Linked DNA regions of Homo sapiens. The protein of the gene in region 1 interacts with the protein of each later gene in a biochemical or structural test. Each region holds a gene or a part of one and is shown in the gene's direction. Other genes may lie near its edges. The genes, in order: ASF1A, CHAF1B and TLK1.

Evidence for each region.
Region 2: the proteins of ASF1A (region 1) and CHAF1B form a complex in vitro, tested with the Homo sapiens proteins (2 studies listed by BioGRID and IntAct).
Region 3: of the proteins of ASF1A (region 1) and TLK1, one has a biochemical effect on the other in vitro, tested with the Homo sapiens proteins (3 studies listed by BioGRID).

What each region holds. Positions count from the first base shown.
Region 1 is NC_000006.12:118,904,033-118,906,949, forward strand, and holds part of ASF1A (histone chaperone ASF1A), read left to right. Parts: intron 1-1,619; coding exon 1,620-1,796; intron 1,797-2,917. UniProt on the Homo sapiens protein: Histone chaperone that facilitates histone deposition and histone exchange and removal during nucleosome assembly and disassembly.
Region 2 is NC_000021.9:36,412,823-36,416,479, forward strand, and holds part of CHAF1B (chromatin assembly factor 1 subunit B), read left to right. Parts: intron 1-61; coding exon 62-493; intron 494-2,472; coding exon 2,473-2,567; intron 2,568-3,452; coding exon 3,453-3,544; 3' UTR 3,545-3,657. UniProt on the Homo sapiens protein: Acts as a component of the histone chaperone complex chromatin assembly factor 1 (CAF-1), which assembles histone octamers onto DNA during replication and repair.
Region 3 is NC_000002.12:170,993,584-170,997,025, reverse strand, and holds part of TLK1 (serine/threonine-protein kinase tousled-like 1), read left to right. Parts: intron 1-265; coding exon 266-373; intron 374-3,069; coding exon 3,070-3,246; 3' UTR 3,247-3,442. UniProt on the Homo sapiens protein: Rapidly and transiently inhibited by phosphorylation following the generation of DNA double-stranded breaks during S-phase. This is cell cycle checkpoint and ATM-pathway dependent and appears to regulate processes involved in chromatin assembly.

The sequences.
Region 1 (2,917 bases):
TATCCCTTAGAAAAGGGAATACTCTTCTGAGGGTTTTAATAATCTGAGGTTTTAAAACCAAAGAGAAAGAACATATCTGTGTTAATGCTGGTAGCAGTGCAAATGATAGGCTAGAGCTGGGGAGATCAGTTAGAAAATTCTAAGCAATATTCCAGATAGGAGATGACATGAATTCAGCCTCCAGAAATGAAAAAAATGTTGAGACTGACTAGATGTAGGAGATAAGGGAGTGAAGCTGACTGAGGTTTTTAGCCTAGGACACTAGGTAGCGATTTTATGCCTTTTTGTATCATCTACCTGTGTTAGGCATACAGTAAACAACAGTCTTCAATTTTCACAAGCTAAGGCATTGGCTAAAGTGCTCATCTAGGCCCAGGAATATTCCTTGGTGCCCTGGCAACAGGTAAGCTAATTTGCTGGGACTTGATCCATTTACCACCCAGAATGGCTGCCTCAGATGCCTCAGCCATCACTGCCTGTGTTCCCCAGTCTGGCTCCTTCCATCCGGTCGTCTCATTACTACCTGCACCCTACCACGGATGGGGCCCTGCCCTTCGCTCATGCTCTTAGTCTAGTCTAACTCAGTTTACTTTCTGCATTCCTCAAGGTTCACCTTACAATAGCTTGATTTAAAACAAGGTCTTTGACATCTGCCTAAAGCAATCCTTACCTTCACTGGTTTCCACATTATGTGTGGTTTAAAGAGCATACTATATTGTAGAGTCTAGCAAAGTAACTATTCATAATAGAGGATTATTAATATTTTTTGAAAATCTGCTATGTAGCTATTTCCATCTCATTTTCAGTTTTGTTTTGTTTTGTTTGAGACGGAGTCTCACTCTGTCGCCAGGCTGGAGTGCAGTAGTGCGATCTCAGCTCACTGCAACTTCCACCTCCTCGGTTCAAGTGATTCTCCTGCCTCAGCCTCCCAAGTAGCTGGGACTACAGGCACCCGCCACCATGCCCAGCTAATTTTTGTGTTTTTAATAGAGATGGGGTTTCATCATGTTGGCCAGGATGGTCTCAATCTCTTGACCTCATGATCCACCCACCTTGGCCTCCCAAAGTGCTGGGATTACAAGTGTAAGCAACCACACCCAACCTCATTTTCAGTTTTATACTAATTTACTATTAGAATACCTGTGGGGGTGGTTGAGTGGGTATGAGAATATAAGTATCCTGGGTTGAAGAGGGAAACTGGTATAATAAACATTTGTGGCCAACAGTCTATGAGGAGATCATTTAATACTTACTAATTTAGGTCTGAAAATTATGACTGAAAAGGTTAAAATCAATTGCTGACTATAAAGGTTTTATAATGAATAGTGTATAATCCTTTCATGAACCACCATGCAGTGTAGCCAGAATTTCTTCCTTTTACAAGTGTAGTCATGCTTTCAAGTATCAAGGGTCCTTACATATATTGTGGCAAAACATGAACTGTCTTTTCCAGCTTATTATAAGTCAGTCAGAAATGAGCATTTTCCTTCCCAGTATGATTTCCAAGTTTTTCTTGTTGCATCCTCAACTGATGGTTCTAGGTAACTGAAACTCCAGTCTTGCCTGCCACTAACAGCCTTTTGTGTGTGTGTGTTTCTTTTCTTTTTAATTTATTCTAGGCTGATGCACCTAATCCAGGACTCATTCCAGATGCAGATGCAGTAGGCGTAACTGTTGTGCTAATTACTTGTACCTATCGAGGACAAGAATTTATTAGAGTTGGCTATTATGTAAATAATGAATATACTGAGACAGAATTAAGGGAAAATCCACCAGTAAAACCAGACTTTTCTAAGGTAATGTTCTTACTATTCCTTTTTAACTACTTTTACTATGCAATTTTTAAAGCAGTTGCTATTGCAATTTCATAGTATACTATTAAAATGGCTTTGAGATAAAATAAATATGAGGTCCTTATGCCAACTGGGCAAACTAATTATTGTTCCATTACCATGGATGACTTCAAACCCTACCTTCAGATGAGTCATTAGTAATTAATGTAGGCAGACACCTTGAGCATTTCTGGTTTAGAAAAATGAAAGTACCTCTTTTTTTTCTGAGATGGTTTCCTGCTCTGTTGCTCAGGCTGGAGCGCAGTGGCATGATCTCGGCTCACTGCAACCTCTGCCTCCTAGGTTCAAGCGATTCTCCTGTCTCAGCCTCCCAAGTAGCTGGGACTACAGGTGTATACCAACACGCCCAGATAATTTTTGTATTTTTAGTAGAGGTGGAGTTTCACCATGTTGGCCAGGGTAGTCTCCAACTCCTGACCTCAAGTGATCTGCCTACCTTGACCTCCCAAAGTGCTGGGATTACAGGTGTGAGCCACCACGCCCAGAGAAAGTACTTCTTGTAAGACAGGCCTTTGTTTATGGCTTTCTTTATAGCATTTCCCATATTGATTATTCCCATCATGATTCTGTTCATTTCAACCTTTAGGACAAACAAATGCATTTTTGTTGTACTAATTATTCAATGATGATATTTTTGTGTGTAACTCTTCCCAAAATTATGAAAGTTTTATGTTTGTTTTTCCTATGAATACGGTTATCTCAAAACACCTATACGCTTTATCTGCTATTCTTAGAAGTTAAACTAACAGTCTTAAATATTTCTGGTACTGAAAACAGCTTAAATTCTGAGTGAGAAGCTGAAATCTAGGATTCAGCATTCTTAAAGATACTTAGTATTTTCTGATTTTTCACTGGGAACTATAACAGTTTGGTAACTGGTGATTTTGTGAGAGTGCAGAGTAAATGAAGTTGAACCATGCAAGAAAAATTACATGACAATAGAATAGAATGTTCTCATGTTCTTTCTGATAATAAGGCCGGACTATTTTTCACCCTTGTTGTACCTTCCATTGATCCAATTTGTTATCCCTGAAGCACCTTATATAGCACAAAAGAAACAGGAC
Region 2 (3,657 bases), on another chromosome or scaffold:
TTCTAAGTAGATGTGAGAGTGTTGGTAAGGTCTGTAACTTTTCCCTGTTTTGGGGACGAAGGTCCAGCGATGGTGCCTTCCTGGCCATTTCTTCCACGGACGGTTACTGCTCATTTGTGACATTTGAGAAAGATGAACTTGGAATTCCTTTGAAAGAGAAGCCAGTTTTGAACATGAGAACTCCTGATACAGCAAAGAAAACCAAGAGTCAGACACATCGAGGGTCTTCGCCAGGACCCAGACCGGTAGAGGGAACCCCTGCCAGCAGAACCCAAGACCCCAGCAGCCCCGGCACGACTCCCCCTCAGGCCAGACAGGCCCCAGCCCCAACAGTCATCAGGGACCCTCCCTCCATCACTCCTGCTGTCAAAAGCCCCTTGCCGGGGCCTTCGGAGGAGAAGACCCTGCAGCCCAGTAGTCAAAACACAAAAGCCCACCCATCCCGGAGGGTCACTCTGAACACACTGCAAGCCTGGAGCAAGACAACACCCCGGTAAGAACTTGTTGGAACAAGATGTCATTGCAAAATGAAACACAAAATGCAGACAGAACGCTCCCACCCTGCTGCAGGTGAAATTTCAGGCGGTGAATGCTTCATGCCAGTAGGTTGCCAGAGAGATTCTTAACTTCAAATCCGAGAGTGTCATTTCTTGCATATAGGCCTCTGTTTGTTCCTCCAGTTTCTGCCTGTCAGATAAAGCCCAGGCTCCTATGCACACACACAGACTGTGATTTGGCTGCAGCCTGTCATCCAGGACTGTGGCCACTCTCTCTCCTGAGTCTGTGGCCTTCATCTCCGGCCTAGTCCTGAATGTCATCTTCCCAGAGCACTCTCTGCCCTTTGAGGCCTCTGTCCTTCCCTTCTCTGGGGAAGCCCTGGACACCTCTTCCTCTTGGTGATGCCAGGAGTCTCCTGAAAGACCCATTTCAATGTACCCTCTCTGTTTGCAGTCTTTGTGGCCCTTCAGCCTTTCCCTTGTCACCACACATCAGATTCCATAGCAGGTGCTTTGATGCTCCAGTTCCCCTGCTGGTTGTGAGCCCCCAAGGACAGGAAGCAGGTCCCATTTTTTATTTATGCTGTTCTGCCCAGGATGTAGGCAATTCCAGGAGTGTCTTCCTGAGACTGCGTTTGATGTCTCCAGCAGCCTGGTCGGTGAGAAACGGAGGTCCTGATCTGATAACAAATAATCCCCAGGAGGTGCAGAGTCGTTTCTTCCCTGCTTACATCAGTGTGGCTGGCACGCACGCCTGTGTCTGCCACTTCTACTGGATACAGAGCCACTTAGCACATCCTTCTGCCGTCAGGCAGCACAGCCTCCTGTTTCCATTCTTCCCCTGCAGCTGATGTCCAGTTACCCCTCTGATCCTGTATAGTTCCTTCTCCACCAAGCCCTCTGCCTCCCAACCTTCCCATAAACTGAGTCACGAGGAGAGCTGGGAAGGGGGATGCAGAGGGGAGTGGTGGGGATGGTGAGCTGGACAGAAGCGCCCTGTGCCTCTCAGCCTCTCCTGCGCCAATAGGTCTTCTTTGGCAAGTTCATAATATGTGTATGGGTTGCTGGCTTTAACGCCCTCTTAAAATCTCTCATTTCTTTCTGCAGATTAGCAATGTATTTTACAATTTTTCTGTTTGTTTTTATGTGACGGAAGGTATTCCTTGAACTATTTTTGGTATTAAATTATTTTTCCCCTCTTGATTTCTTCTGAATTATTTACCAAGCTTCTTGAAGATGTAATCTTTTGCAAACAAGAATAGTTGTTGAAAATTAAGACTCTGGGTTTTTATTTATTTATTTATTCATTTGAGACAGGGTCTTGCTCTGTTGCCCGGGCTGGAGTGCGATGGCATGCTCTCTGCTCACTGCAACCTCCGCCTTCTGGGTTCAAGTGATTCTCCTACCTCAGCCTCTCAGGTAGCTGGGATTACAGGCATGCGCCACCATGCCTGGCTGACTTTTTGCATTTTTAGTAGAGACGAGGTTTTGCCATGTTGGTCAAGCTGGTCGAAAACTCCTGACCTCAAGTGATCTGCCCGCCTCAGCCCGCCAAAGTGCTGGGATTACAGGTGCGAACCATCTTGCCCGGCCCAACGCTCTGGATTTTAAAAAAGTATTACCTGTGTTTCGACGCTTTCTATATATAGAAACCATATCTGACTGCCTTTTACAGCAGCCAGCAGAGTGTTCACAAGACCGTCGGTAATGAACAGAACACAGGTTTTGAAACTTTTCGATGACTGGTTATGGTTTAAGTTGACTGTTATAAATGTGATGGTTTAACTTAATACATGAATGTAATCCTCAGTTATTAAACAAGTGGGCACATCTTACTATTTAATGCCTTGAACCAGAAGTTCAGCTGAAAATTTAAGTATTTCCTTTGGTAGTTTTGAAGGTTGGTATCATACATAAACAATTCCTGTGATACTAATGAGCCATCACCCCTCTACTTTTTTTTTTTTAAATCAAGGAGAATAAACTTAACACCCTTAAAGACGGACACTCCACCAAGTTCTGTACCAACCAGTGTGATTTCCACCCCTTCTACAGAAGAAATTCAGTCAGGTAAGTAATATTGTTACTGGTTTAATATAATGAAAGGTAGAGTATCTTTTCTTTTGTTCTTTTGGAAATTAATGCCGCCTAATTTTAAGTCAGTTCTGAGACAGCAGGGATGCATCTTATTGGAACCATTGTTTAAACCCGCCGGCTGCCTGTTTACGCCTCAGCAGGGGGCACCTGGCCAGTGAGAGCATCCTGGTGAGCCAGGGAGTGGGTTCAGCAGGAGATTGTCTAGCTCAGGTTTCTCCACCTGATGACTGCTGACCTTGTGGGCCAGGCAATTCTTTGTTGTGGAGGACTGTCCTGTGTATTATGCGATGTTTAACAGCATCCCCGGCTGCTACTTCTTGCCCATGACATTCTTTTTTTTTTTTTCTTTTTTTTGAGATGCAGTCTTGCTCTGTCGCCCAGGCTGGAATGCAGTGGCACGATTTCGGCTCACTGCAGCCTCCACCTCCCACGTTCAAGCAATTCTCCTGCCTCGGCCTCCCGAGTAGCCGGGACTACAGGCGTGCGCCATCACACCCGGGTAATTTTTGTATTTTTAGTAGAGTCGGGGGTTTCACCACGTTGGCCAGGCTGGTCTTGAACTCCTGGCCTCAAATGATCCACCCGCCTCAGCCTCCCAAAGTGCTGCGATTACAGGCGTGAGCCACCGCGCCCAGCTTGCCCATGACATTCAAAAATGCCACTAGACATTGCCCACTGTCCCTTGAGAGGCAAAATCGCCCCTGGTTGAGAGCCACTCTATAGAACTTCCATTATATCAGTATAGGATCTTGCCAGGCAGCTCAGTTCCGTGTCTTGGCTCTGTATTCTGTAAATGTCAGCCCTTGACTTCCAGAATTCTTCATTTACTTGCCAACCTTATGTTTGTTAATGTTGCAGAGACGCCTGGAGACGCTCAGGGCAGTCCCCCAGAGCTAAAGCGGCCCAGACTCGATGAAAACAAAGGAGGCACGGAAAGTCTGGACCCTTGATGGGACCTCGGCTTCTGCTCGAAGCCTACCAGGCTCCCGGTGTGTGCAGGGAGACGGTAAAGCTGGAGGTGCCTGAGACCAGGGCTTCCATGGAGCGGGACACACTGTAAATG
Region 3 (3,442 bases), on another chromosome or scaffold:
TTTTATCTTATATTGCAACAGCATTATTTTCTTCTTCTTACAGTGTTTAATCTATGTTGAAGATCTGTTAGGTAGGCTTTCTTGGCCTGCTATCAATTATAGCTTGTTTGTATGAGAATTCATCTCAGGTTTCAAATAACTGAGGAAGATTTTAGAACACAAGATATTTGGATTTTCGGTTTTGGGAATTCGCTTAAACAGAAATGATATCTGTGTTTAAATATTTTGTGAGAAAAGTATCTCAACATTTAATTTTTTTTTTAAGCCATTTGGTCACAATCAATCTCAACAAGACATTCTTCAAGAAAATACAATATTAAAAGCCACAGAAGTCCAGTTCCCTGTAAAACCGGTTGTAAGCAGTGAAGCCAAGGTATTAAATTTTTGTAAATGAGTTTTGTGAAGTAACTTTTCTTTCATCAGTTGTGCTGACAACAAGGTAAGTACTTTCCAGTAAGTAAAGTCACAAGACTCGCTGCTGCAGGGGATCTGTCCAGCAGGGGCTGGTGATTTACTTTCAGAGAAGGAGTTGCATCAGCCTCTGGTTGCTATAGTTTTTATCTTTTAAGCTATGGTCTCTGATTGTTTATGTTCATCAGCTGCTACTTTGAAAATTAGGGAAAAATCACAAGATCTGGGCTCATCATTACCTTTTATGTATTATTTTATCTGCTTATGTTAATACTGAGATATATAAGTATATAAGAAATATTAAAAGTAATAATAAGGCTGGGCGTGGTGGCTCACACCTGTAATCCCAGCACTTTGGGAGGCCAAGGCGGGCAGATCATCTGAGGTCAGGAGTTTGAGACCAGCCTGACCAACATGGTGAAACCCGGTCTCTACTAAAAATACAAAAATTAGCCAGGCGTGGTGGCACACATCTAGAGTCTCAGTTGCTTGGGAGTCTGAGGTGGGAGGATCACCTGAGCTCAGGGAGGTCAAGGCTGCAGTGAGCCATGACGATACCGCTGCACTCAAACCTGGGGGACAGAGTGACACCCTGTCTCAAAAAAACCAAATAGGCCATGCGCGGTGGCTCACACCTGTAATCCAGCAATTTGGGAGGCCCAGGCAGGCAGATTGCCTGAGCCCAGGAGTTCGAGACCAGCCTGGGCAACATGGTGAAACCCCATCTCTACTAAAAATACAAAAATTAGCCCGGTGTAGGGGCCCGTGCCTTTAGTTTCAGCTTCTCAGGATGCTGAGCTGGGAGGATCGCTTGAGACCAAGAGGTAGAGGTTGCAGTGAGGTGAGATCGCACCACTGCACTCCTGCATGGGCGACATAGCAAGACCCATTCTCAAAAAAACAAAAGAGATAAATATTCTTATTTGAAAGCAAAATGAATTATTTTTGTAAGATAAATATGACTCCTTTAAAAATATTTTAACTGTGCTGACATCTAAATCTTGTCTTATTTTCTGTCTGTAGCCTCATTGAGAACAGAAATTAAATGAATTTAGTTGATTCATGATCTGTTTGTTTAATACTGACTGAAAAGACCAGGAGGAGTGGAGTTGCCAAAGGCAAAGTCTCATTTAGCCATTCCTGGTTCTCTCCTTAGGCTCTTAATAGGCACCACAGTCACCTTTTAGAGATCTGGAATCCAGGAAGGGTTAAGGGGTTGTTGGGGGGATATAATATTAATATGATACAATTATATGATATAAATTTTAATATTTTAATGTAATATATAATATCTCTATATTCTGTATCCCTACAGAAGATACCTTTGCCAAGTACTTTCCCTGACTTGGTGTGGGCATCTTTAAGTACATTATTTGTTGCAGACTTAACCTTAACCTTGCTATTGATAGCCTTTCCACTCCTCAAACTCTAACATATCAGTCTTGATGTTTTTTTCCCTCTTAATCATTTTTCAAAGTGATCTCTGAAACTTTGTTAAAGATAAAAAAGATAAGTCCTCTAAGGGATCAGATTGACTTCCAATAAACAGTAAGCTATGGTAAAATGAGAATAGCTAGGTATATTTTTAGAGAAAAATATACTTCTAATGAATTTCAAAGCAAAGAAAGTGCAAAATAGTTACCTTTTAATGTGATTATACTTCTGTTTAATGGTATGTATTAATTTCTAGTGTCAGCATTAAGAAAGGGAAACAATTACCAGTTACCTCCTGAGAATATTTTATCTGTTCCCTCCCCCCCCAAAAAAGGATGAACCTCAAAATTTAATATTGGGTGAAAGAGGCCTGGCAAAGGAGAACATAATTTATAATTCTATTTATATAAAATTCAAACAATCAAAACTCAACTATGGTTTTAGAAGTCAAGATAAAGGTTAACCCAGGTTCGACTGGGGACAGAGCCAGTGCCTGGAACTGGGCATGAGGGGGATTCAGAGGTTCTTTTTCTTGATCTGGTTGCCAGTTACATAGATGTATTTACTTTGTGCTATGCACTTAACGATTTGTGTGCATTTCTAAAAATGTGTTACACTTCAGGAAAGGTTTTTTTTTTTTTTGTAAGAGGCTATTCTCAAAGAAAAACTGAGTAAAATTGGTTTGAGAAAAAAAAAATAGTGATTATATTCTGTTTATTTAGCTTTTCCAGGAGTGTAATGATGCATAGGGTTAACCTGGGAAACAATGTCCCTAATGAAAGTGTCCCTTCAGTGATCTCTTCATCTAAAGAAAGTCTTTATGTCAGTAGGAAAAAAAAATAATGGTTGAAAATGGCATCTTACCCTTTGCTAAACTGAAGTGATAACAAAATGGGATGAGGGTGGGAGGACTGTTTAGCAGAAGAAAAATGCTAGAAAAAAGTCTTCAGAATTTCGTAAGCAGAAACAACTTTCCAGTATAAGTTCAAATGGTTGCAGTAGTAATTTAGACTGTAAAGTGAACCACTGCAGGGGCTTCAAGCAGTGAGTTGCATTTGGAGTGAGAATTTTCTAGCTACAGAATTTTTTTTTTAAGGTTTGAACTTCCAATAAAATGAGATCTACTTATGTCTTAAATGTGTCCATCCTTCTGCTGATTCAGTTGATTGATATTTAGAAGGGAAAAAGATCATTAATTGCTAACATTTCCTTTCTCTTTTTGAGGCATTTATAAGACGCTGTTTGGCATATCGAAAAGAAGATCGATTTGATGTGCACCAGCTGGCAAATGACCCATACCTTCTCCCACACATGAGAAGATCAAATTCTTCAGGAAACCTACACATGGCTGGGCTGACAGCATCCCCTACACCCCCTTCTTCAAGCATAATTACTTACTGACTTTCCTCCAAGATTGGCATGATATCTTTGAATTTGCTTCCAGATGCACACTTAAGTTTGAGAGCATTTGAGTGTTTGTTTTCTTTTTCTTTTTTTTTTTTTTTTTTTTTTACACAAGACGTGGTTAAGAACTGTTTGTGAACTGAAGTTCCTCATAGTGTCATTTGTATGAGAGAGGATCATGGACAATGAATAA